Linked DNA regions of Homo sapiens: regions 1, 2, 3, 4 and 6 are each linked to region 5. Evidence: fine-mapped expression QTL. A gene starts in region 5. Each other region holds a variant in brackets. All regions are shown on one strand. Distances are between the middles of the regions.

Region 1 (4,085 bases), 27 kb after region 5:
CGGGGAGAGCCGTTGTTCTAAGAAATGGCTAACCACAAGCAGCCCGCTTGCACAACCTCATGTTACCAAATACCTCACTCTGCACGTTAGCTCCAGCAGCATGACCCTGTCTGCATGGGGCCTCTCCAGCGTGACCCTGTCTGCATGTGGCCTCTCCAGCGTGACCCTGTTTGCATGTCGCCTCTCCAGTGTGACCGTTTCCACATGTAGCCTCTCCAGCATGACCCTGTCTGCATGTGGCCTCTCCAGAGTGACCCTGTCTGCATGTGGCCTCTCCAGAGTGACCCTGTCTGCATGTGGCCTCTCCAGCGTGATGCTGTCTGCGTGGGGCCTCTCCAGCGTGACCCTGTCTGCGTGGGGCCTCTCCAGCGTGACCCTGTCTGCGTGGGGCCTCTCCAGCGTGACCCTGTCTGCGTGGGGCCTCTCCAGCGTGACCCTGTCTGCGTGGGGCCTCTCCTGCGTGACCCTGTCTGCGTGGGGCCTCTCCAGCGTGACCCTGTCTGCGTGGGGCCTCTCCAGCGTGACCCTGTCTGCGTGGGGCCTCTCCAGCGTGACCCTGTCTGCGTGTGGCCTCTCCAGAGTGACCCTGTCTGCATGTCGCCTCTCCAGCATGACTGTATCCACATGTGGCCTCTCCAGTGTGACTCTGTTTGCATGTGGCCTCTCCAGCATGACCCTGTCTGCATGTCGCCTCTCCAGTGTGACCCTATCAAACTTCCCCCTGGCCCCTGCCCCTGGGGAGGTGGCCTTCTCTCTGCCATGCTGCCTGCTGTTCTCTTGCAAGGTGTCTTCAGACTTTCTTTACCCACGACTGTCTCGGTAAATTCTTTTACCACCCGTGACACCAGCCCCAGCCAGTTGCACCTGCAACACTGGCTGCAGTGGATTCCTTGTTGCTGATACTCCACATAACGTTGTTAGGTGTCATATATGATCATTCTTTAACAGAGGGGCAAGCTGAGGCTCAGAGAGGTTAAGGCACTTGCTCAAGGTCACACAGCAGAGAGGTTGTGAGTAAGCCAGGCTGCTGGCTTAGAACACTGCCATGGCATTTCTCAGATCACCTCGCTCAGGGACTCCTGGCAGTTCCCCCTGCGTCATAGCGGTGAGTCTGTCCAGGATGAGCCACTCCAGGCTACCGAGGGCCAGCTGGAGGGCCTGCAGACACCTGCTGTGGAGTCAAGGTCCACACCATCAGCCGGAAGAGAGGTCTCAGGAGGGGCATTAGTGTTTGTCCTCGCTGTGATTGCACTGACTGACAAATCAGCTGTGGGACAATGGAAAACACAGTAGCAGCTTGTTACTGAGAAGGGAGGACTCAGGGTGGACCTGACCCCTCTGCAGATGGCTTGGTGAGAACGTGGCCTGCCCTGTTGGCTCCTCCCTCTGGGTATTGGAATTGCCGGGCAGCCAGAGGCTTACCTGGGGTTACTGGCACCCAGGGAGGAGAAGCCCTGAGCTGTGCGGCTGCTGAGGAAGGCTGTCTGCAGGGGAGAGCCCGAGCGCTGAAGGAGGCCAGTGGGCTCAGCCCGATGTCTCCATTCTCCTTCCTACAGCAACCAGGGTGCTTGGAGCAACCAATTGCCCCCCCTTACCTGGTAGGGATGCTAGGAGGGAGAGCGAGCCATTCCTCTAACATCAGTGACCATGTCTTGGTTCCAAAACCCCTTAAGCCTTGGGTTATTTATCAGCAAAAAGAGAAGGGAGGTGCTCAGGGGGTCTTCGTGGAGATCCCCTGCTCCCCTCGCCTTGAATGTGGAGAGGGCCCAAGACTCCCTAGGGAAGGCAGGTGATATAGACTCCAGGTGTGCCCTGCTCCGTCCTCGGCACCACTCTGCAGCACCACAGGCAGTCTGGGGTGCAGATAACATCTCCCTGGGCACAGCTTCGCACCAGGGCATGCTGGGGTACAGCCACACTTGCACAGCCTGTGGATCCCTGCAGCCTGGGGATTGGGCTGCTATTCCCACTGCAGGGAGGGAGGTGGTCGGAGGTAGGGGCTGCTCCTACCTAGGTACTTCTGGCCTCACCAGAAGAAGGGGGAGGGTTTGCACATTGAGTGGCGCCTGCTCCAT[G/C]TTTGTGCCTGTATTTACATCATTATTCTGAAGGCCAAGAGATTGGACCTGCCGGAGCTCCATGCACAGACCCTGTGCAGGTGCATGTGGGCTTCTGGCTTCCTGGTGTGCACAGCCCCTTCTCTCCCTTCTGGACTGTGGCAGTGTACTAGGGACATTGTAGCCACTGTGTAAAGTCTCCCGCTTTCTGGGACAATTTTATTCACTCATGTGTGTTGAGAGCTTGTTTTGTGCTGGGGTCCCTGGGGAGAACGCTGGGTTCACTCATAGTTCCACAACAAGAGACCTGTGGCCTTTGTTGTGGACAGGGGCCAAGAGCACGTAGAGAAGGCGCTGAATGCTCCTTGGCTTCCAGGGGAAAGATCAGGACTGGAAGGATGTGGGAACTGCCCAAAGCTACAGAATCTGCTGTCTCAATGGCTGAGCAGGGTGCAGAGTGCATGCGGCTGTTTGTTCTGTGGCACTGGTAACCTTGGCACTTCTCCAGGTGTGAAGGACAGCATGGGAGTGAGCCTGTGAAGTTGTAGGCAGAGTCCAGGCAGCCCCGAGCCTGGGTTGGTTGTAGCTGTCAGAGTGGCAGCAGGTGGACAGAGGGGATGGGCTCGGGGGGAGGCGGGGGGACCCGCTTGAGTGGGAGTCAGCCTGGGGGCATCTCAATCCCTCTGATGCCTGGTTTGGGTCCCCAGCACTACTTAGCCCACCCCACTGAGCCTGTCTGTGCCTGGCCTGGCACTGGTGATGCAGGGACTGAGTCAGGCAGGGCACGACCCAGAGAGCCCATGGGCAGACAATGTTGGTGCTGCATGCCCGGGCTTAAACCAGCAAGCCTGATTCTGAATGTCCACAAGCTCTTGGCTGGTGGGGCCACAGGACTGGGACCCAAGCCTCCTGGCGACATGGGTGAGGCCATCTGTCATCGGTCCTTCTCTCAGGCCACCTGGTTCCCTGTGACTCACTTGGTGTTGGCCAGGTGCATGGATGCAGATCTGAGCAGACAGTCCCTGTGTCCCCAGTCTGGTTGGGGGTGCAGGGGTCTGGAGCCCATGTGAGCCTGGTGAGAGCCTGGGAAGGAACCACTTTTTCCATGGCAGAGCTGAGTGCAAAGCACGCTGTTGCACTGCTCTGGTGGTGGCATTTTACTCTGTAACCTATTCATCCACACACTCATGTATTTCTCCACCCACCCATTCATCTACTTATCCACCCATTCACCCATCCATCCACTTATCCATCCACCCATCTACACATCCATCCATCCACCCACACACCCATCCACCCACCCACCCATCCACCCACCCATCCATCCATACACCCACCCATCCATCACTTATTTGTTCATCTATCCATCCATTCCCCATCTGTCCATCCACCTACTCACCCATCCATCCACCATCCATCCAACCATCCATTCATGCATCCATCTACTCATCCATTCATCCATCCATCCACCCATTCACCCACCCACCCATCCACGTATTGACCCATCCATCCACCCATCCATCTACCCATACTTCCATCTATCCACATACCTGCCCATGCACCCACTCATCCATCCACCCACCCACTCACCTATCCACCCATCCACCCATCCATGCATCCATCCATCCATCCCCCCACCCACCCGCCTCGTCCCTCCATCTGAAGGTCATTACGGAACAGCTGTGAAGCTGAGATGCTGGGGACCCAGTGGTTACTCAGGACAGTCATGGACACTGCCCTCTAGGCTGTGCTTCCTGGCAGGCAGAAGCAGCGAACAGGACCCTTTGCAGATAGTGGTGTCTGCTGTAAAGGAGAGAAAACAGCGAGAGTAAAAGAGTTGAAGAGCTACTGGGGTCTCCTGGGACTCTTTTCCATTCTGAGTCCTGAGCCCACCGAGAAGTAAGGCATGAAGGCAGGTGCTGGAAACCCAAAACCCTTCTATCAGTGCCAACTCCTCCATCAGGTTGTAAACCAAAAGATATCTGAGACAGGTCTCAATAAATTTAAAACACTTATTTTGCCAAGGTGAAG
Region 2 (4,085 bases), 21 kb before region 5:
CACACGGCAGTCAACGCGTGGACACCGGAGACTGTTGAGACGCCGACTGGAGTCACACACGGCAGTCAACGCGTGGACACCGGAGACTGTTGAGACGCCGACTGGAGTCACACACGGCAGTCAACGCGTGGACACCGGAGACTGTTGAGACGCCGACTGGAGTCACACACGGCAGTCAACGCGTGGACACCGGAGACTGTTGAGACGCCGACTGGAGTCACACACGGCAGTCAACGCGTGGACACCGGAGACTGTTGAGACGCCGACTGGAGTCACACACGGCAGTCAACGCGTGGACACCGGAGACTGTTGAGACGCCGACTGGAGTCACACACGGCAGTCAACGCGTGGACACCGGAGACTGTTGAGACGCCGACTGGAGTCACACACGGCAGTCAACGCGTGGACACCGGAGACTGCTGAGACGCCGACTGGAGTCACACACGGCAGTCAACGCGTGGACACTGGAGACTGCTGAGACGCCGACTGGAGTCACACACGGCAGTCAACGCGTGGACACTGGAGACTGCTGAGACGCCGACTGGAGTCACACACGGCAGTCAACGCGTGGACACTGGAGACTGTTGAGACGCCGACTGGAGTCACACACGGCAGTCAACGCGTGGACACTGGAGACTGTTAAGACACCGATTCTTCCCAACATGTATTCAAGACATTCAGAAAAGGTATTCAAAAATGCGTTCAAGGGAATTGCTATTGAAATTCCAGAAGGCATGTTTTTTTGGTAGAAATTGAGACACTGATTGTAAAACATATATGGAAACACCAAGGACATAAACAGCCACAAGAATCTTTAAAAAGAAGAGTTGGAAAATGCACATCACCTCGATTCAGGGTTTATTATAAACCCAACTGTAGCCAAGACAGTGTGGCGGCCGGGCACCATGGCTCACACCTACAACCTGTAATCCCAGTAGTTTGGGAGGCTGAGACAGGAGCATCACTTGAGCCCAGATCAAGACCTGCCTGGGCAACATAGTAAAACCCCGTCTCTACAAAAAAAATAAAAATAAAAAAAATAAAATCAGCCGGGTGTGGTGACACACGCCTGTGGTCGCAGCTACTACTCAGGAGACTGAGGCGAGGGGATTGCTGGAGTATGGGAGGTCAAGGGTGCAGTGAGCTGAGATCACGCTACTGCACTCCAGCCTGAGGGACAGAGCAAGACCTTGTCTAAAGTGTGGCAATGGCAAGAGCGTAAGGACAAACAGAAACAGACCCACACAGGTAGGTCAGTTGATTTCTGACAAAGGCGCCAAATTAGGAGAAAAAAGCCTATGCAGCAAATAATCTGAAAGTTAAGGGAGAAATGGATCCTGACTGCAACCCACACTGGAAACGTACACTCCTGAGTAGGGACTGGATACACACGCGGCACACACCCACACAACAGGCCGCCACGCGGCAATCAGGAGTCTGCCGCTGATCCACGCAAAAGCCTGGGTGAATCTCAGATGCTGAGCGAATGTAAGCAGATACACGCAGACATACACAGACGCACGCAAAGACACAGACTGCCCAGAGCCATGCACGTGGAACCCATGGCAGGCGGGAGGTAGGGAGCTG[C/T]GGTGGTAGGAGTCAGAATGGGTACCCCTGTGGGACTGGCTCTGCGGAGTGGAGGGCATCACCTACATCCTTCGTGAGTGCGCACCATGACCAGCCACACCCATGGAACTAACACTCGGTATCTGGGTTTTTTGTGTAACTGCCTCCCCTCAACACCATGGTCTCCCACATACAAAAGAGGCCATTATACAGTAAGACACGCTACTCCGCAATTAGACACCACAAAACGCCAGCCAGGCTGTCCATAATTAAAAATACCGAGCACCAAGTCTCAGCAATCCACTAGTGTTCTCCTTCCACCCAGCTGGGAGAAAGAAACACAGTCCAACCACTTTGGAATCATCTCTATACTTGGACAACACGCTTCGTAAGATCCATTAGGTGCTCCTAGAGTTGGCCCCCACCCCCACCCCCACACGAGTGTTCACCACAGCTATTTCCAAGTGAGTGTTATTACCCCAGAAAGGAAGCAACTCAAATATCCACCCACAATAAAGTGCATTAAAATCAGAGCACAGGACAGTCATGCAATGGAATACTATACAGCAATGAAAAGGAACACACTTCTGCTAGATGACAGGGCTGAGTCTCACCAACACACTGAGTACCTTAAGGCTCTCAGGATAATGGGAAAAAAAAGAACCAGAATCCACCCCCCGCCCCACCAGCCACACACACACAAGTCCACAAAGGAACAGGCACCCACATGCTGTACCCTGGGGCCCTTCCAACCCTGATGCGCCAACTCCCGACATGCTGCCTCTAGCCTTGACCTTTCTCAGAAATGATAGCTTAGCGGATGTTTGGCAGATCTCAACAGTCAAGCCAAGATCCAGCTGCAGTCAAAACACAATACGCCTGGTGGAGCCTCTTCCAGGTTCAAACACGGGAACCACGCTCGGAGCTGGACCCGGACCCGAGCCTCTTCCAGGCTCAGACACGGGAACCACGCCCAGAGCCGGACCCGAGCCTCTTCCAGGCTCAGACACGGGAAGGGAACCACGCCCAGAGCCGGACCCGAGCCTCTTCCAGGCTCAGACACGGGAAGGGAACCACGCTCGGAGCCGGACCCGAGCCTCTTCCAGGCTCAGACACGGGAAGGGAACCACGCTCGGAGCCGGACCCGAGCCTCTTCCAGGCTCAGACACGGGAAGGGAACCACGCTCGGAGCCGGACCCGAGCCTCTTCCAGGCTCAGACACGGGAAGGGAACCACGCTCGGAGCCGGACCCGAGCCTCTTCCAGGCTCAGACACGGGAAGGGAACCACGCCTGGAGCCAGACCCGAGCCTCTTCCAGGCTCAGACACAGGAACATTCTCGGAGCCGGACCTGAGCAACCGCCAGTCCATCAGCTATGGTCAGAGGAAGGCCTCCGTGGCTGTCTCTCCCCCATGAGATGGGGCATTTACACAGCACACTTAGGGACACGGAGGCCCTGCAGGTTTGGTGAGGTCTCCCGAGGTCCCTGAGCTGCAGAGGTGAGAGTTGAAAGACGCTGCCCCCAGGCCACAGTCTCTGACTGTCCACAGAACCACACGCTCCACATCTTCCCCTCAAACTCAACTCAAGCGCTCTTGGCTTTAAATCAGGCCGGGCCGTCTCACGGGAAAAGGAGGTTGGCTGCAAAGACCCACAGGGCCCAGAGGGGAAGCTGGCTATGACGCGATCCCTTCAAGAGCACTGGCTCCGGCCCCAGCCACCAGGACACTTAGTGACCAGCCAACAAGCGGGTGGTTTAAATACTGCACTCTATTTTTTAAGGACTCTGTGCATGGTATTTCCGGTGGCAGATGTGTAAGATTTTTTATGTAAATCGTGTTGTTTTAGCAGAGGACTATCAGACCTGACAGCAGCTGGACATCGAGGTCCTCACTGGGGTGGTGACTGCCACGCTGATGCTGAGTGGAAGCCAAGCCCCTTCAGTCAGAGCTGGGCCGATCTCAGACCCAAATGCTACCACCACCAAGCCCTGTGTCGCGACGGCAGCGGCTGCAGTCACCAGAAACAATCCTTCCTGCCTCGACACCCGTGCCAGCCCCAGCCACCCTGACGGCGGGCTGTCCACGGAAATGCCACGGCCAAGAGCCCAGGTCCTTCACGCTGGCCTCTTCCCTGCCGGGCTGGGCTCCCCAATGCCTTCAGAGTTCGTTGTGCCGAGCTCTGGAGATCCTGCCGGACAGGTCCTGCAGATGCTTCTTCACCTGTGGACAGAAACGTCTCATCAGCTGGGGACAGCGCGCCTCGAGGCCAGCTCTGTGAGCTCAGCCTCATGTCAGGAGACGCGCGATCCAAAAGGAAAAGGCGCAAGCCCTGCACATCTGACTTTCCAATTCCACACCCATCCAGAAATGCTCAAATCACAAAAGCAGCTCAGTACTAACTAGAAAATCCCACCAAAGAACGCTAAGAGCCACCAGCCAGGAGCAGTTCATGCTGAAGTGGAAAGCTCAGGGTCTCTGTGATAGGCCCATGGTGTTATTTATTTACTTACTGAAAGG
Region 3 (4,085 bases), 35 kb before region 5:
GTGGACCTTCGCTGGTTCGGGCTCTGCACCATCCACACCTACCCGCCTGCCCCCACCGGGAGCAGCTGGGGAGGGGCCCTCTCAGGAGCCTGTGTATGTGATGAGCTCAGGGGGTGTCGGCCTGTTGTCAAAGGTTCTCAAAGTCTAGACCAGCTCAGTTTGCTCAGGGGGCCTCGTGTGAGGGTCCCAGCCCTGTGACTGTCTGCCCTTGAGTCTGGCCTGCACCAGTGCTAGGTGCTGAGCCCCCATTTCCGGCCTCCCAGCCCCCACCCACGAGGCCCCTCAGAACAGGAGGGTGCTGCGCCTTCTTTCTAGCTGCCGGCTGCCGGAACCCATGTGGGACATTGTCTTGGGCTGGCCCCGCTTCTGCTCATCTGGGCTGGAGGTGGGCAGGAAGCCTCTGCTCAGCCGTGGGCCGCTGTCCCTCCCGCAAGCGCCCTTCAGACCCCACCATAGGCTCCTCCAGGGACTTGGGGCACCCCGTTAGGCACGGCCCACTTCAGAGGCCCAGGAGAAGGTCGCCTGCAGTGTCAGGGAACTTTGCTCATCTCATCTGGGGCCTCCCAGTGGGGCATTTTCCAGGGGCACCCCCCTGCGGAGCCTTCCCCACCAGCTGCAGAGAGCAGGGCCCACACCCTCAAGGACGGGAAAGGAAATCACAGGCACCCTCGGAGCAGCCGCTCAGCTCTGAGGTCGGAGCCCAGACACTACCTTGCATGGGCGTGGTACTCCTCCGATAAAGCTCTAATAGCAAAATAGTGGGGCTGGACTGGGCCTCAGGGCTGGGAACCGCCCCCTCCCCAGATGCCGAGGCCTCCAGCTCCCCCATGGGTGGTTATGGGGGCTACCACCAGGCTGGGTGGTCAAGGCAGTGGGTGGCCCGGAGATCTGGGGGCTGTGGGGCAAAGGGCCCTGGAGAGAAGGCATCAGGTATGGCGGGCTGGACTCCCTGCAGGTGACCCAGGTCCCCCAGCCTGTGTCACTCTTGGGGGGTAGTGTCCTTGTTCTCGGTGGCCCCCCGGGCACAGGATGAGGGGAAGACTGAAGGATGCACTGACCCAGGTTCTCTTTGGTCTAGGGAGCGGCAGCCTCAGCCCCAGGACCTGCGACAGCACATTCAGGTAGGCACCTGGAGCCAGTCCCCCAGAGCTCGGGGACAGGAAGGCGGGAGTCTGGGTGGGCGCAGATGGCAGCCAGAGTTTGACTAGATGGGGAGGGGGGAGGGTGGGGGGCCCACTGCCAGCAGGGAATGTGGGCAATGTGGTGAAAGTGGTTGTTGGCTGACAGTGGATGTTGGGTGGCAGTGGGTGTTGGGTGACAGTTGACAGTGGTTGCTGGGTGGCAGTGGGCAGTGGGGGTGAGTCCCAGCCCAGGTGTGGACAGCAGGGCAGTGGGTAGAGGGCAGGCTGCTGGAGGATGGACTGAAGGTTGGGAGACACAGACTGGGGTCCACGGGTCCCCAAGCCCTGAGTGTGGACCTGTTCCTGGGAGGGGGCATGGCAGGAAGGCAGTCAGGGTTGGGGTCCAGGAGCCCCAGCTCAGGGAGGAGGGGCTGTGTCCTCAGACAGCGGTGGGGGCCTGTGGAGGCTGGGCTGGTGGTGAGCGACTCGGCGAAGGGCAGGGCATTGGTGCCCTGGCAGGTGCAGTTTTGGGGCCAGGTTGGGAGGG[A/C]GGGCCAGGCAGGGAGGCAGTGGGAAGGTACGGATCCCCAGGGTCTCCCTAGAGAAGCCTGGCAGTCACTGGGGACAGAGCCCTGCTGAAGGTTGGGCAGGGCTGAGAGGCTGGAGATGAGGACGGCTGGCCTGGGGTAGATGGGTGGCATCAGGGCCAGTTCTGTGCCTGTTTCCTTGTGGAGTAGGAGCCACTGCGGGCTAAACCTTGGATTCCTCAATCCCTTCTTCCCAGGCAGGTGGCACCTACAGGGGGGCGGGGTCCAGGCAGGCCTGGAGAGGACACCCAGGGTGGGGGAGGCGCCCAGGCAGGCCTGGAGGGGACAGTCAGGGATGGGGGCGGAGCCACAGGCAGGCAGGGGCAGCTTGGGAAAGCCCCCACCAGTCTGCCTTGGCCCTGGGCTGGACACCGATCCCTGCAGTCCAGTGTGCTGAGGCAGCCACCAGACCAGAGGTGGTGGGGCCAGCCCTGCCCCAAGGGTCCTCCTGGGCAGCCTGCTGTTGCCTCCCCGAGGCCACCCGTACCCTTCAGATGTCTTTTACCCAGACAGGGGTGCCCTGGGACACAGGTGTGGGGATCAAGGGGACAGGCCCAGTATCTGCTGGAGGATGTGAATCTTTTCCACAGAGGCCGGGGGCTCAGGAGGGGCGCCTGGGGTCTGTCATGGGACAGAGATGAGCCAGGCCCAAGTGGTAGCGTCGGGCTGCCAGCCCAGGGCGGGGTCTGGGAGGAGAGTGCAGAAGGGCCAGCCGATTCCCGGTTGCTGCTTCACTGAAAGAGTATCCGAGGTACTGGAAGCGATGCTCACAGAAGCCGAAGCAAAATCCAAGTCCCAAGGAGGGGACGGGAGGAGGAGCACTGAGGGCCCTGGAGCCAGTGGCCTTGGGGGAGATACAGATACGGACACACTGCTGGCCCAGCGCTGCTTACAGCCCCCGTGTGACTCCGGGTGGTGTTGGGAACATTCGTCCCCTTTCCCTGCAGTCAGGCCTCATGCTCCTTCCTGCTTCCACCCTCACCCCTCACCGCCCAACCTTGGGAGCAAACTTGGAAGAACGGATGCAATCCTAAAACGAGGTACCAGGCTGCAGGGGGGTGTCCAGCCCCACCGTGGGCAAGCCCCGGCCCTGCCCCTTGGCTTCAAGGCCCCCTTTCCAGACGCCAGGCCCCGGCGCTCCCTCAGCTCTCCCCAGGCCCTCACCCCACCTGCCTCTCCCACCACCCCCTCTTGGCCTAGCCCCTCAGCCATGCCCCCTCCTCTAGGCAGCTGGCCCTGCTGGCCCTGTCCCTGCTGGCCCAGGTGCCTGCCTGGGCACCAGAACTTGGCCGCTATGTTCTGTGGCTCATCTCGATGAAGGGGTCCTGGCATTCCGAGGGGACCAGCCCTCTAGGACCACACATTTGCAGGAGGGGGGTCTCCCCAGGGCCTCAGGGCCAGGCAGGGTTGGGGCAGAATTGTGTTGGTTGCTTTAGTTCATGGAATCAGGTGAGCGAACCCTCGTCGACCTGGGCTCCATCTCGCTCTGTCCCAGCTGCTGCCTGCAGAATCAGCGAGTCAGGTCTCCCTGGCCTCAGTTTCCCCACTGGGAGCAAGCAAGTGAAAGTTCCTCACCCCTAGCCCTGCTGCAGGGAGTGACGGGGACAAGGGTGAGAGGAGCCAGGCAGAGTGGATGTCTGCGGCAGGTGCCGGGCAGCGGGTGGCCACAGGAGAACCTGGTCTGCTGAGGATGCATCCCTGGGGCAGGGAGGCCCAGCCTTGAGTCAGGCCCCTCCCCTGGACAGGCAGGTGTTTCAGGGAGGCCGACCCTGCAGGGCTGTCACCCGCTGGATCCCAGCCCCCACCTGAATTCTGAGGGCTCGGAGTGTGCTGGGGGTGGGGAGGTCACTGTGGGTGGGGCTTGGCTGTGTCTCCCAGCCACTGGCTCAGGGAATGGGGGGGGACTTGCTGTCACCTCCCCTGCCTCACGTGGCTGTGCGTTCCCTCACGAGGTCCTGATGACAAGAATGGGAGGAGGCACTGGAGAACGGGGTCCTTCCTGTAGAACCTGGGTGCCCACGGTGCGGAGCCCTCAGGCCTGCAGAGGAGGGGCCGGTGTGCGTCCAACCCCCTAAGGTGGGAGCCTGCCTCAAGTCCCACCCAGCCGGGCCTGTGGGGTCCCCTCCTATCCTGCTCCTGCTCTGCCCTCCCCAGCACCAATGGGGTGTGCAGACAGAACCATCAGCTATTAGGAAGGGGGTCGGGGGAAGGGAGTAGCTCCTATGAGGGGGGAGAGGGTGTGGGGCACCTGGGTGTCCTGGAGGGGATGCAGAGGGAGCGTGGGCCTGTGTGCAGGAGAGGAGGGGGTCCCTGGAGCCTGCAGCAGGTGGGGGTGACCCCGGAGGACAGTGAGGGGGAGGTGCTGGGGGCCAGGACAAAG
Region 4 (4,085 bases), 510 kb after region 5:
GATGGTCTCGATCTCCTGACCTCATGATCCACCCGCCTCGGCCTCCCAAAGTGCTGGGACTACAGGCGTGAGCCACCGCGCCCGGCCAACACTCAACTTCTTTTTTGTTTTTTCCATTTGTCAACTCGTGAACACCTCAACCTTGTTACATCCAAAGCCAAACTCATGGCTTGGATTGGTAGGTGATGGCTGTAATCCCAGTGCTATGGGAGGCTGAGGTGGGAGGATTACTTGAGGCCAGGAGTTTGAAGCCAGCCTTGAAAACACAGTGAGACTCCCTATCTACAAAAAAAAAAAAAAAAAAAAAAAAAAAAAAAAAAAAAAAAAAAAAAAGCTAGGCATGGTGATGTGCATCTGTAGGATCTGTAGTCCTGCTACATGGCAGGCTGAGGCAGGAGGATCACTTGAGCCCAGGAGTTCGAGGCTGCAAAGAGCTATGATTGCACCAGTGCACTCCAGCCTGGGTGACACAGCCAGAGACCATGTCTTAAAGAAAACCCAAAGCCAAACTCTCTTTTTCCTCCTCCTTCTCCATGGGTTCTGTTCATGCCATCTCTGTTCTGCAAATGGCACCACCCCCTGCTGAGCTGCTCAAGGTGGTCATAACTCATGTGTTGTGCTAACTCTGCTTTTGCTCTCTTCTCCAGTCAGCAAGTCCTGTGATTCTAAACTTTATCCAACTTGTCCACTCTCTCTAGCTTCACTGTCATTATCTTTGCCTAGGACACCACTATCTCAGCTGGGCTACAGCAGCCTCCTAACTGGTCTTAACTGGTACTCTGCACCTGCTCTCCATGCTCAGCAATCCATTTCCTACCTGGCAGCTTCAGTGATCTTAAGGTGTCCATTGAGTCTCATCCCTGCCTTTCCTGCCCATGGTACATAGAATAAAATCGAGACCCCGAGTCTTCTGCCTGTTCCTGCCACCTCTCCAGCCCTCTCCTATCTCCTGCCCTTGGCCTACTCTATTTCAGCCACTATGGCCTCCTTTTGTTTTCTTGGACTTTCAAACCTTTTTCCACAACAGGGCCTTTGCACTTACTGCTTCAGCCTGGAATGATTTTCCTCTGCACCTCCCCAGATTAGACCATCCTTTAGGTCTCAGCTAAAATGGTGCTTCCACAGACAGCTCTTTCCTGACCCCTTTATAAAGTGGACTTCCCTGCTCTTCTCCACCTTAACCTCTTATTGTTTCTTGTTGTGGGAAGTCAGGGACCCCAAATGGAGAGGGACTGGCTGGAGCCATGGCAGAGGAACATAAATGGTGAAGATTTCATGGACATTTATCAGTTCCCAAATAATACTTTTATAATTTGTTATGCCTGTCTTTAATCTCTTAATTCTGTTATATTCATAAGCTAAGGATGTACATCACCTCAGGACCACTGTGATAATTGTGTTAACTGTACAAATTGATTGTAAAACGTGTGTTTCAACAATATGAAATCAGTGCACCTTGAAAAAGAAGAGAATAACAGCAATTTTTAGGGAACAAAGGAAGACAACCATAAGGTCTGACTGCCTGCTGGGTTGGGCAAAAAGAGCCATATGTTTCTTCTTGCAGAGTCTATAAACGGATGTGCAAGTAGGAGAGATATCGCTAAATTCTTTTCCTAGCAAGGAATATTAATAGTAATACCCTGGGAAAGGAATGCATTCCTGGGGGAAGGTCTATAAATGGCCGCTCTGGGAATATCTGTCTTATGCGGTTGAGATAAGGACTGAGATACGCCCTGGTCTCCTGCAGTACCCAAAGGCTTACTAGGGTGGAGAAAAACTCCGCCCTGATATACCTGTGGTCAGACTGGTTCTCTGCTCTTGAACCCTGTTTTCTGTTGTTTAAGATGTTTATCAAGACAATACATGCGTGAATGAACATAGACCCTTATCAGTGGTTCTGCTTTTGCCCTTTGCTTTGTGATCTTTGCTGGACACTTATCAGTAGTTCTGCTTTTGCCCTTTGTCCTGTTCCCTCAGAAGCATGTGATCTTTGTTAGACCCTTAGTAGTAGTTCTGCTTTTTACCCTTTGAAGCATGTGACCTTTGTACATACTCCCTGTTCTTACACACCCTCCCCTTTTGAAGCCCTTAATAAAAACTTGCTCATCTGAGACTCAGGGGGAATCACGGTCCTACTGATGTGTAATGTCACCCCCAGCAGCCCAGCTGTAAAATTCCTCTCTTTGTAGTGTCTCTATTTCTCAGCTGGCTGACACTTAGGGAAAATAGAAAGAACCTACATTGAAATATTGGGTGCAGGTTCCACCTATACTTCTTTCATGGATTTACTTATTTTTTATTTGTCCCCCTCTGTATCCTAGAAACTCCTGGAGGGCAGAGGCATGCCTGCCATCTTCATCAATGCATTACCACCACCCAACACTATCGGGGGACCTGCCCTGATAATCAGGTAGGTTCTTTTCTATTTTCCTAAGCGTCGACTGGCTTGAGAAATAAAAGGACAGAGTACAAAAGAGAGAAATTTTAAAGCTGGGC[G/A]TCTGGGGGAGACATCACACATTGGTAGGATCTGTGATGCCCCACAAGCCACAAAAACCAGCAAGTTTTTAATAGGGAGTTTCAAAAGGGGAGGGAGTATACAAATAGGTGTGGGTGACAGACATCAAGTACTTAACAGAGTAATAGAATATCACAAGGCAAGTGGAGACAGGGCAAGATCACAGGACCACAGGACGGAAGTGAAATTAAAATTGTTAATGAAGTTTTGGCACCATTGTCGTTGATAACATCTTATCAGGAGACAGGGTTTTGAGATCAACCTGTCTGACCAAAGTTTATTAGGTGTGAATTTTCTCTTCCTAATAAGCCTGGGAGTGCTATGGGAGACTGGAGTTTATTTCACCTCTGCAATCTCGACCATAGGAGACAGGTACGCCCCACGGGGCCAGTTCAGAGACCTACCCCTAGGTGCGCATTCTCTTTCTCAGGGGCGTTCCATGCTGAGAAAAGGAATTCAATGATATTTCTCCCATTTGCTTTTGAAAAAAGAGAAATATGGTTCTGTTCTGCCCGGCTCGCCGGTGGTCAGAGTTTAAGGTTATCTCTCTTATTCCCTAAACAATTGCTGTGATCCTGTTCTTTTTTCAGGGTGCCCACATTTCATATTGCTCAAACACACATGCTGTACAATTTGTGTACTTAACGCAATTATTACAGGTCCTGAGACGATATACATCCTTCTCGGCTGACAGGATTAAGAGATTAAAGTAATGACAGGCATAGGAAATCACAAGGGTATTGATTGGGGAAGTGATAAGTGTCCATAAAATCTTCAAAATTTATGTTTAGAGATTGCAGTAAACACAGGCATAAGAAATTACAAAAGTATTAATTTGGGGAACTAATAAATGTCCATAAAATCTTCATAATCCACGTTCTTCTGTCATGGCTTCAGCCGGTCCCTCCGTTTGGGGTCCCTGACTTCCCGCAACATCTCTCCCTTTCTTTTTATGTAAATGTTCCATGGCGATGAAGGCTTGTTCATTCTCTCGATTTTGACACAGTATTATTTGACTGGTACGGCACACTAAAAGCAAGCCGATTAAGCAGAGAAACATAATTCCAAAATTTACTATAGTGGAGCCCCCAATAGACTTAATCCAAGTTGTGGGGTTTAATCCATAAAGATTTTCTGCCACCTGATCTAACGTCTGAGCTCCAGGCATGATGGATAAGTGAGCTTGGGAGGATTCAAAAATTTGTTTTTTTAATTTAGTTGTGTCCAGTGATAAATTATCTTTTCTACCTAGAAGGTGTCCTTTGACCATTTCCCCATGAATGATCAGTCTTGATATAGGAATACGGGGTGATGCAGAAATCCAAAGTATTCCAATCGCAGTGCATTTGCATGCGATGTTCTAGACTCACTACCCGATCTCCAAGCCAAATAACAGAGTGTCTTAAATCATTAATTTGATTTGCCAATTTTTGATCGATGCCTTGTTGAGAATTCCACATTTGGGTGGAATTGGCTTGCCAATCATTAACAAAATGAGCTGTTTGAGTAGACTGGTGTAATGCCATTCCGGCAGTGGTGGCCATTGCAGTGACTGTAATTAGGCCCATGG
Region 5 (4,085 bases):
TTGCCCACACAACTAGAACTTCAGGACTTAAAGGGACCAGAAAGATCATCTAGTCCAAGGCTCAGTCCAAAGTGGAGGTGAGCAGCTCGCCCTACCATGGTGCCCAGTGAACCTCAGGGAGGTTTAGGAGACATGACCCAACCCAAGACTGAAACTGGTCAGGCGAGCACCCAGCACCGGGGGACAGTGCAGGGGCAGCCCGAGGGTAGCTGGACCAGTGCAGGGGCAGCCTGAGGGCAGGTGTATTGCTGCAGGAGGCCTGGGCTGACAAAGACAGAGGACCAGCTGGAGGTGGCTGGAGGTAAGGTGGAGCGCACCAGGGCGGCCCTGCAGAGCAGGTGGAAGACTTGGGCCAGCACCCAAAAGGGAGCCGCTGGGGTTCCTGGGTCCGAGTGCACTTCCTCAGCGCCACCTCCAATCGGTCAGGGAGTCTATTTCGGGCTCCCCATTCCTCATGGGGAGGGGGGACTCCACCCACTCAACAGATGCCCAGTGCAGTGGGCACGGGGAGGCAGCACTGCATCCCGGCTGCTCCTGGTCACACCTGTTCCCTGCTGCTGGGAGGCCATCAACACATCCAAACCCAGCCGTGTCCCCAGCCCCTCCAGAATCCCTTCCTCCAAGAAGCCGCCCTGCCGCTCCAGCCCAGAGCGTTCTCCCACCTCCCACCTCCGCAGGCTGAACATTACGCCTGGGGCTTGACTGCTGGTCCCAGGAGCAGTTCAGGAAGGGCCTGTGGAGCTGATGCCCAGGCGTCAATCCCCATCCCCACGCAGTCTTATAACCGTCTGTCGTCTGTCTGTCCCCCACCTGTTTCTCCTCTCCCTTTTCGTTCCAAAAGTTCCTTCTTATTCTGCAAATCACTTACTTTCCCTCTCAAAGACTCAGGAATGCTTAAAACTGGACTATTGAGACAGAGATCTAATCTGACTCCTGCATTTGAGATGAGATAATGAGGCCCAGATGGTCGGCATAGTTCGAAAACACCCATTTCAGGTGTTTTCAGGAACACCTAACAAATGAAGCAACCGTATCTTAATGAAGAGAGCAGCTGGCCCAGGGTCACGCACCAATTAGGAAGCTGTTGTCCCGGGGGGCCCCACCGGCCGAGCCACCTTGGGGGTGCCCTTTCCCCTCGGGGCCTCCGTACCCTCATCTCTCAAATGAAGGAGAGGTCAGGTGAGCGCCCTGTTAAGACTGACTTTCAGCATTCCCAAGGTCGCGTTTTATGTGCTCTAAACCGATCCCATCTCCTCACCTCCTCATTTCTCGCTCAAATGAACAAGCACGGGCTTGCTACTGGGATTCCTTCTGTCCCTGGACACGTCTTTCTACCCAACATTTTGTTTTTCTTGTTTCCCCACATAGGGAGATAAGGTTGAGGGAACAGGCAAAGGCTCGGGAGGCAGGAGACCTGTGATCTAGCCTGGTTCTGTCCCTACGCTCGGGTCAGCAGGCCGCCCAGGCTGGGGAGGGCGACACTGACCCTCGGGGTGCCGGCCGCCACCTGCTTCACACGGCGTCGTCGCCGGCACGGGTACCTTTCCTGCTGCAGAAGGGGTCGGGGCGCCCCACCTGACACTTGGGGGAGGCTGTGCCAAGGACAGGGCGCGTAGGGCACAGGTGCCCCGGCTGCGCCCCCCTCCGCCTCCGACCCCTGGGCCCCGCTCCAACGACCCCAACCACGGCCCCCGCCCCCAGGCCCCGCTCCACCGACCGCGGGCCGCGCTCACTCGCTGGGCCTTCTCCCACAGCTGGTTCAACTTCTCCATGCGGAACTCCTCTCCGGACTCGCGTTTCGGGGACGGCTTGGGCTGGTTCTTCTCCCGCGAGTACTTGCCGCCGTGGCTCGCAGCGGGCCAGGGCCCGAGGAAGAGCAGCAGCAGTAGCAGCGCCGGGAGCCCGCGCAGAAACGACCTGACCCTCCGCGGCGCCATCTTCCTCTGCGACTGGCGCTGCGCGGAGAAAACCTAGCCTGCCGATGCCCCGCCCACTACCCCGCCCCCACCCACCGCGCGGTCTCCTGGGAATTGTAGTTCCTCCGTGAGCGGCCGGCAGCGGCGAGGCCGCCGGCGGACTCCAGCGCCTAGGAAGCCCTGCGCAGGCGCAAGCGTTTCCCAGGCAACCACGCCGCGGCCCGAGGCTGCAGACTCTGGCAGGGGATACAACTGGAGAATGAGGGTGGCCGGGTGGGAGCAGGGATCAGGCCTCACCCAGAGCCCGGAGCCTGGAGCCCGCACGACTCGAGGCCTCTTTCCCTCTCTGCCCCACAGAAAGAGCGGAAAGCCCAAGAACCGGGCCGCGTTTGGCTGAGCCTGATAATGCTCCGGCTTCACGCGCACTGACGCCGACTCTTGCATGTCCAGTGCCGTTGCGGGGTTGGCACTGCGGCCCGGGCCTGGCGCTGAGGAGCCTGGCCCAGCCCGCTTCTGCCCTCCGCGGAGCGCCTGGCCGTGGGTAAGCCCAGGCCAGGTTGTCCCGGGGACGCAGGGCCGCGCAGACGTCCCCCTACGTCCCGGGGCCCCTGCCCCAACCCGCGTCCCAAGCGCCTGCTCTCGCGCCTGCTGCAAGGCAGGACTTCGCGCGCTTTTCCCCAACCCATGACACTCTAGGAAATTCACAGAGCCAAAGTTAGCATAGACCGCTCGTTGGGGGCTTGGCCAGTGAGTTGGGAAGTGCCCTGGAGGTAGCGCGGGAAACAAGGGGAAGGAGGGAGACAGACAGCAGCTGGGCCCCTTTGGGCTCAGAGAAGGGACAAGGGGAGCTCATCTGGCAAGAATGATCTGAAAAGGCCTCCAAGGGTGGGCGGGATTTTGCGGGGGGAGGGAGGAATTTCCAACTGGAGGGACAATGACAAAGGGGGTGAATAGAGCCTGGGCATCTTGAGAGGAATTAATGTTAATTCATTTCCTTTTTTTGCGTGGGGGGATAGGGTCTCTGTCATCGAGGCTGGAGTGCAGTGGCATGATCATGGCTCACTGCAGCCTCGACCTCCTGGGCTAAAGCGATCCTCCTGCCTCAGCCTCCCAAGTAGCTGGAACTATAGGTGCGTGTCACCACGCCCAGCTAATTTTTGAAATTTTTTGGTAGAAATTAGGTCTCCCTATGTTGTCCAGGCTGTTCTCCAACTCCTGGGCTCAAGCAACCCTCCCGTCTTGGTCCCCCAAAGTGCTGGGATTACAGGCGTGGGCCACTGGGCCTACCCTAATTTACATTTAAATTGTATCTTGTGTTGTTCCAGAGAAGATTTCAGGTCCCTGGAATCAAGGTGATCTGCTTCTGTCCTGTGCTGCTTTTCTAGTATTTTCAGAGCCATCGTTTCATTTCTTTTTTTCCAGCTGTTGAGTTGTTTCAGGCAAGAGGGTAAATTCAGTCTGTTACTGCATCTTAGCTGGAAGCACAAGTTCCCAATATGGGATGTATGGGGGAGAGGAGGTAAAGGAATCCCCCAGGAGGGTGGTGGAGGGAGAATGACCTCATGCGAAGTGACTCCAGAGACAGATCAAATGCTGTCATTGCCATCATTGCATGTTTTTAAGCCTCAGGACAGAATGGCCAGGTGAGCCTGGCCTAGATTCTCACCTGTGCCTGCCTTCCCCTTGTGTTCCCTCGTTCCTGCTCTTCTCTCCATCTCCTGGTGCCTAGAATCAGAGGTCACCTGTTTTACCCCACATACATGTTTTGCCCTGACCCCACTCCTGAGAGCTACAGGTAGGTCTTGGTGGGCTTAGAAGGGGATAGTCCAAATTGGCCTATCCCCCCCAAGCATGTCCCTGTTGGTCATCTGGAATGTGGTCCTAACTGCAAATGTTCCAGCTCTGTGAATCCTGCCCCCAGTGTCTCTAGAAAGGCCCGTTATAAACCCACAGGAATTGGAAGCTGGACTGGGAGCAGAGTCTTCTGGGATCCTGCATCTGACAGTGGTGTGGGGTTCTAAGAGCCCTTTTCCTATACAGCCCGGTTTCCCAGATAACTAAGCAATATTTTATTCGTGGCTGCATACACAGGCAATGAAACTAAAGAAAGTCAGGGGATGGCTAAAGGATGGAGGATACCTGGGCTGGGGGAGGAGGGAGAATGCGACG
Region 6 (4,071 bases), 41 kb before region 5:
GGGGCTAGGTGGGGCCGAGGGTCCGCAGACCACCATGCTCTGAGCCTTGGGCACAGTATGAGTCTCCATCCGAGACCCCAGGGAACGGTGGGGACACTGCAAGGTGGGCGGGCATTTCCCCAGGTGGAGGGGAGCCTGTGAGAAATGGGCACCGTGAATGAGGGGCAGGCAGCCCCTCTTGCAGCGAGGCCGGCCCTGGGGATGGGGGAGGGGCTGGTCATTTTTTGGAACAGAAAATTGAAAAACTCGGTGGTGAGGAAGATGAGGAAGGAGGGGTCTGGCCGGCGTGGGGTCCTGGTGAGTGGGCAGGTGGCAGGGCCATCCACGGGCACAGGGACCCAGCTGGGCGCATGGTGGCCTGGATAGGGGTGGTGTGGGTGTCTGCGTTTGAGGGCCAGCCTCTGGGATGAGGCATCGGGAGGAGCGGGGACTCCCAGGGGACTGCCACTCCACAGAGGGGGATAACCACTGAGTCAGGCTGGGCCTGGTGCCTGCGGGCGAGGGTGGGCGGTGGTGGCCACCTCCTCCACCGAGTCTTCTCTCTGCCACAGACCCAAGTCCCCCGGGACCCTCGACTGTGGAGGAGCGTGTGGCCCAGGAAGCCCTGGAAACCCTACAGCTGGAGAAGCGGCTGAGCCTCCTCTCACATGCGGGCAGGCCGGGCAGTGGAGGTAGGGCCGGGGGCTGACCTGGGCTGTGGGACCTCGGCTAAGCCTCCAGCAGGAGAGCTCAGGAGGCATCCATGCATGTGTGGGGGCTGCAGGCTCCCTCTGCTCATTCATTCATTCCTTCTGTCTCCTGCTCATTCATTCTTCCCCCAACTCCCCGCCCCGCCCGCTACTCATTCATCCTTCCTTCCCCACCACCCTGCTCATTCCTTCCTTCTCCTCCTGCTCATTCATTCCTTCCTTCTTCCTCCTACTCATTAATTCCTTCCTCCCCCCATTCCTTTCTTCACCCCCTCATTCATTCCTTTCTTCACCCCCATTCATTCCTTTTCTCCCTGCTCATTCATTCCTTCCTTCCCCACCCTGCTCATTCATTTCTTCCTCCGCCCCCCCCACTCATTCCTTCCCCCCTCATTCATTCCTGTCTTCACCCCCTCATTCATTCCTTCCTTTTCTCCCTGCTCATTCATTCCTTCCTTCCCCACCTTGCTCATTCATTTCTTCCTCCGCCCCCCCGGCTCATTCTTGCCTTACCTCCATTCATTCCTTCCTTTTCCCCACACTCATTCATTCCTTCCTTCCCCCCACCCCCTGCTCATTCAGTCCTTCTTTCACCCCCCCCACCGCCCCGCTCATTCATTCCTTCATTTCTCTCCTGCTCATTCATTCCTTTCTTCTCCCTCTGCTCATTCATTCCTTCCTTTTCCCCCTGCTCATTCTTTCCTTCACCCCCCCGCTCATTCGTTCCTTCCTTCTCCCCCTGCTCATTCGTTTTTTCCTTCTCTCTCTGCTCATTCCTTCATTTCTTCTCTCCCTGCTCGTTCATTCCTTCCCTCTCCGCCTGCTCGTTCATTTCCCTCCTGCTCATTCATTCCTCCCTTCCCCGCATTCCTTCCTTCCTTCCCCCCTCATGCATTCCTTCATTTCCCCCCACTCATTCCTTCCTTCCTTCTTCCTCCTGCTCATTCCTTCTTTCCTTCTCCCCCGGCTCATTCATTCCTTCCTCTGCCCCCCCGCTCATTCATTCCTGCCTTCCCCCCATTCATTCCTTCCTTCCCCCCCACTCATTTCATTCCTTCATTACCCTCCTGCTCATTAATTTCTTCCTTCTCTCCTCTGCTCATTCATTCCTTCCTTCTTCCCCTGCTCATTCATTCCTTCTCCCCCTGCTCATTTCTTCATTTCCCTCCTGCTCATTCATTCCTTCCTTCTTCTTCCTGCTCATTCATTCCTTCCTTCCCCCCCATTCCTTCCTTTCTTTTCCCCCGGCTCATTCCTTCCTTCTCCCCACTCCTGCTCATTAATTCCTTCCCTCTCCCCCTGCTCGTTCATTCGTTTCTCCCTTCCCCCCATTCCTTCCTTCCTTCTTCCTCCTGCTCATTCATTCCTTCCCCCCTGCTCATTCCTTCCCCCCTGCTCATTCCTTCCTTCTCCCGCTGCTCTTTCATTCCTTCTCCCCTTGCTCATTCATTCCTTCATTCATTCCTTCCTCCGCCCCCCCGCTCATTCATTCCTGCCTTCTCCCCCTGCTCATTCATTCCTTCCTTCTTCGCCTGCTTGTTCCTTCCTTCCTCTGCTCCCCCTGCTCGTTCATTCCTTCCTGCTCACCCCAGCTTCCTTCTTTCCTTCTTCCCCTGCTCATTCATTTCTTTCTTCTCTCCCTACTCAATTTCTCTCTCACTCATTCATTCTTTCCTTGTCCCTCCGCTTATTCCTTCCTTCTGTCTGTTCATTCATTTCTTCCTTCTCCCACCTATTCATTCATTCCTTCCTTCACTTATGGTTCCACATTTACTAAACTCTGGTCTGAGGTGCTGACGGGAA[A/G]GGTGGTTCTGCCCTGAGAGCCTTTGAATCCTTTCCTGCCCACCAGCTTGTGGCTGGGGGAGACCAAGGCCCTGCATGTTGGTTTTACCTTCTGTGCCCAGACAAAAGGCTCTAAGGCAGGTGAGCTGGCTGCCCAGGAGCAGAGGCACCTCCTCAGCTGCCGGTGGCTCTGGCTCTGTTGCCATTGTGGGGAGAGGTGGTGGTGGAAGGGGCTGGCAGAGCAGGAGGGGCCGCTGTGCTCCCCGAAGGGTGGCTGCATGGGTGACCTGTGTTCCCACGGCCAAGTGCAGGAGCCGTGCTGGTCCGGCCAGTGCCCTCTGATCACTGCTTGTCCCCCAGAGGGCACCAAGCAGACAGTGGTCATCTCCCCTCCTGCCCTGCCCCAGGAGGAGGGGACTCAGGTTTGCAATAAGCTTTTGCCTTCCTGGGGGTGACTCACAGCTGCTTTCCATTTGGGAGCCCTGGAAGGCAGAGCAGGCAGCTTAGAGACGCAGCAGAGATGAAAGTGGCTTTCCCAAGAGCACGGGAGGGGCCTGGCCTGGCAGGCGGGAGGCAGCCTGGGATCTGCATTGGGTGTGCTTCTCATCCCCCGCAGGGAGGGAGACTGGGAGTGAGGCAAGGACGCCAGCATGGTGAGGGCAGGGGGCGAGTCGAGGTGTGTGGGCACAGCTGGTGCCTCGTGTCCAGGCTGGCAGGGCCTGGGAAGTTCTTGGGGAAGGGACGTCCAGACCAGCCTGGGGCCGTGATGGTGCGGAGGGCAAGCTGCCCCAGGTGGCCCTGGAAGGTAGTCGGGATGGCTGGGTATGGAGCGTGGGGTGTTAGGCAGGGAGGGTGGGGAGCTCTAGGGAAGGGGAGGAGGCGGGGACCAAGGTAGTGGCAGGGGTGCTGAGAGGGAGGGGCGCAGGCCGTAGGAGAACAGGTGGCAGAAGGACAGGAACGGACAAAGAACAGGAGTGGATGAGGGGTAGAGGGGTTGTTGTTGGTGAAGCCAGGTTTCTGCTGTAGGCCCCGGGGCTTGGGGGCTGGAAGGGGTGGGGCGAGACCAGAGAGTGCTGGCCTGTGGGGGTCCACCAGGCATCAGCCACGTCCTGCCCAGACCCCTGTACCCCCACAACTGCCTTGGCTTCCTGCTCTGTCTCAGGGGATGACCGCAGCCTGTCCAGCTCATCCTCAGAGGCCAGTCACTTGGACGTCAGCGCCAGCAGCCGGCTCACCGCATGGCCAGAGCAATCCTCGTCGTCAGCCAGCACGTCACAGGAGGGGCCTAGACCAGCAGCTGCCCAGGCCGCCGGGGAAGCCATGGTGGGTGCCTCAAGGCCACCCCCCAAGCCGCTGCGTCCGCGGCAGCTGCAGGAGGTTGGCCGCCAGAGCTCCTCGGACAGCGGCATCGCCACTGGCAGCCACTCCTCTTACTCCAGCAGCCTCTCGTCCTACGCGGGCAGCAGCCTGGACGTGTGGCGGGCCACAGATGAACTGGGCTCACTGCTCAGCCTGCCAGCAGCGGGGGCCCCCGAGCCCAGCCTGTGCACCTGCCTGCCCGGGACAGTCGAGTACCAGGTGCCCACCTCCCTGCGGGCCC

Alleles and levels. Positions count from the first base shown, and alleles are read on the strand shown. Sizes are in standard deviations (SD) of each study's normalised expression. Not every link is listed here.
For the expression in skeletal muscle of the gene that starts at base 1,947 in region 5, allele T in region 2 goes with a lower level than allele C (small effect, 0.38 SD a copy in GTEx).
In carriers of allele A in region 3, the expression in pancreas of the gene that starts at base 1,947 in region 5 tends to be lower than with C alone (small effect, 0.30 SD a copy in GTEx).

The links.
Region 1: its variant is fine-mapped to the expression of LRPAP1 in whole blood (TOPMed, PIP above 0.99).
Region 2: its variant is fine-mapped to the expression of LRPAP1 in skeletal muscle (GTEx, PIP above 0.99).
Region 3: its variant is fine-mapped to the expression of LRPAP1 in pancreas (GTEx, PIP 0.95).
Region 4: its variant is fine-mapped to the expression of LRPAP1 in unexposed skin (GTEx, PIP 0.99).
Region 6: its variant is fine-mapped to the expression of LRPAP1 in pancreas (GTEx, PIP 0.93).

Annotation. Positions count from the first base shown.
Region 1 is chr4:3,557,185-3,561,269 of GRCh38, forward strand. No RefSeq gene overlaps it. Among named protein-coding and RNA genes, the nearest start is that of LINC00955, 18 kb to the right of the region's middle. The variant G/C (reference allele first, on the strand shown) is at 2,076.
Region 2 is chr4:3,509,249-3,513,333 of GRCh38, forward strand. It overlaps LRPAP1 (LDL receptor related protein associated protein 1), which reads right to left. Exons shown (of 8, transcript NM_002337.4): 8 at 1-3,788. The coding sequence ends at 3,726. Among named protein-coding and RNA genes, the nearest start is that of LRPAP1, 21 kb to the right of the region's middle. RefSeq lists an enhancer at 1-800. The variant C/T (reference allele first, on the strand shown) is at 1,588.
Region 3 is chr4:3,495,742-3,499,826 of GRCh38, forward strand. It overlaps a transcript of DOK7 not described here. Among named protein-coding and RNA genes, the nearest start is that of DOK7, 34 kb to the left of the region's middle. The variant A/C (reference allele first, on the strand shown) is at 1,669.
Region 4 is chr4:4,039,740-4,043,824 of GRCh38, forward strand. It overlaps LOC101928217 (a long non-coding RNA gene), which reads left to right. Exons shown (of 5, transcript XR_001741554.2): 4 at 2,322-2,410. Among named protein-coding and RNA genes, the nearest start is that of OTOP1, 190 kb to the right of the region's middle. The variant G/A (reference allele first, on the strand shown) is at 2,497.
Region 5 is chr4:3,530,476-3,534,560 of GRCh38, forward strand. It overlaps LRPAP1 (LDL receptor related protein associated protein 1), which reads right to left and starts at 1,947. Exons shown (of 8, transcript NM_002337.4): 1 at 1,734-1,947. The coding sequence starts at 1,937. RefSeq lists silencers at 1,437-1,686, 2,127-2,186 and an enhancer at 1,727-1,936.
Region 6 is chr4:3,489,126-3,493,196 of GRCh38, forward strand. DOK7 (docking protein 7) reads left to right here. Exons shown (of 7, transcript NM_173660.5): 6 at 552-671; 7 at 3,634-4,071. Among named protein-coding and RNA genes, the nearest start is that of DOK7, 28 kb to the left of the region's middle. RefSeq lists a silencer at 587-696 and an enhancer at 3,477-3,998. The variant A/G (reference allele first, on the strand shown) is at 2,493.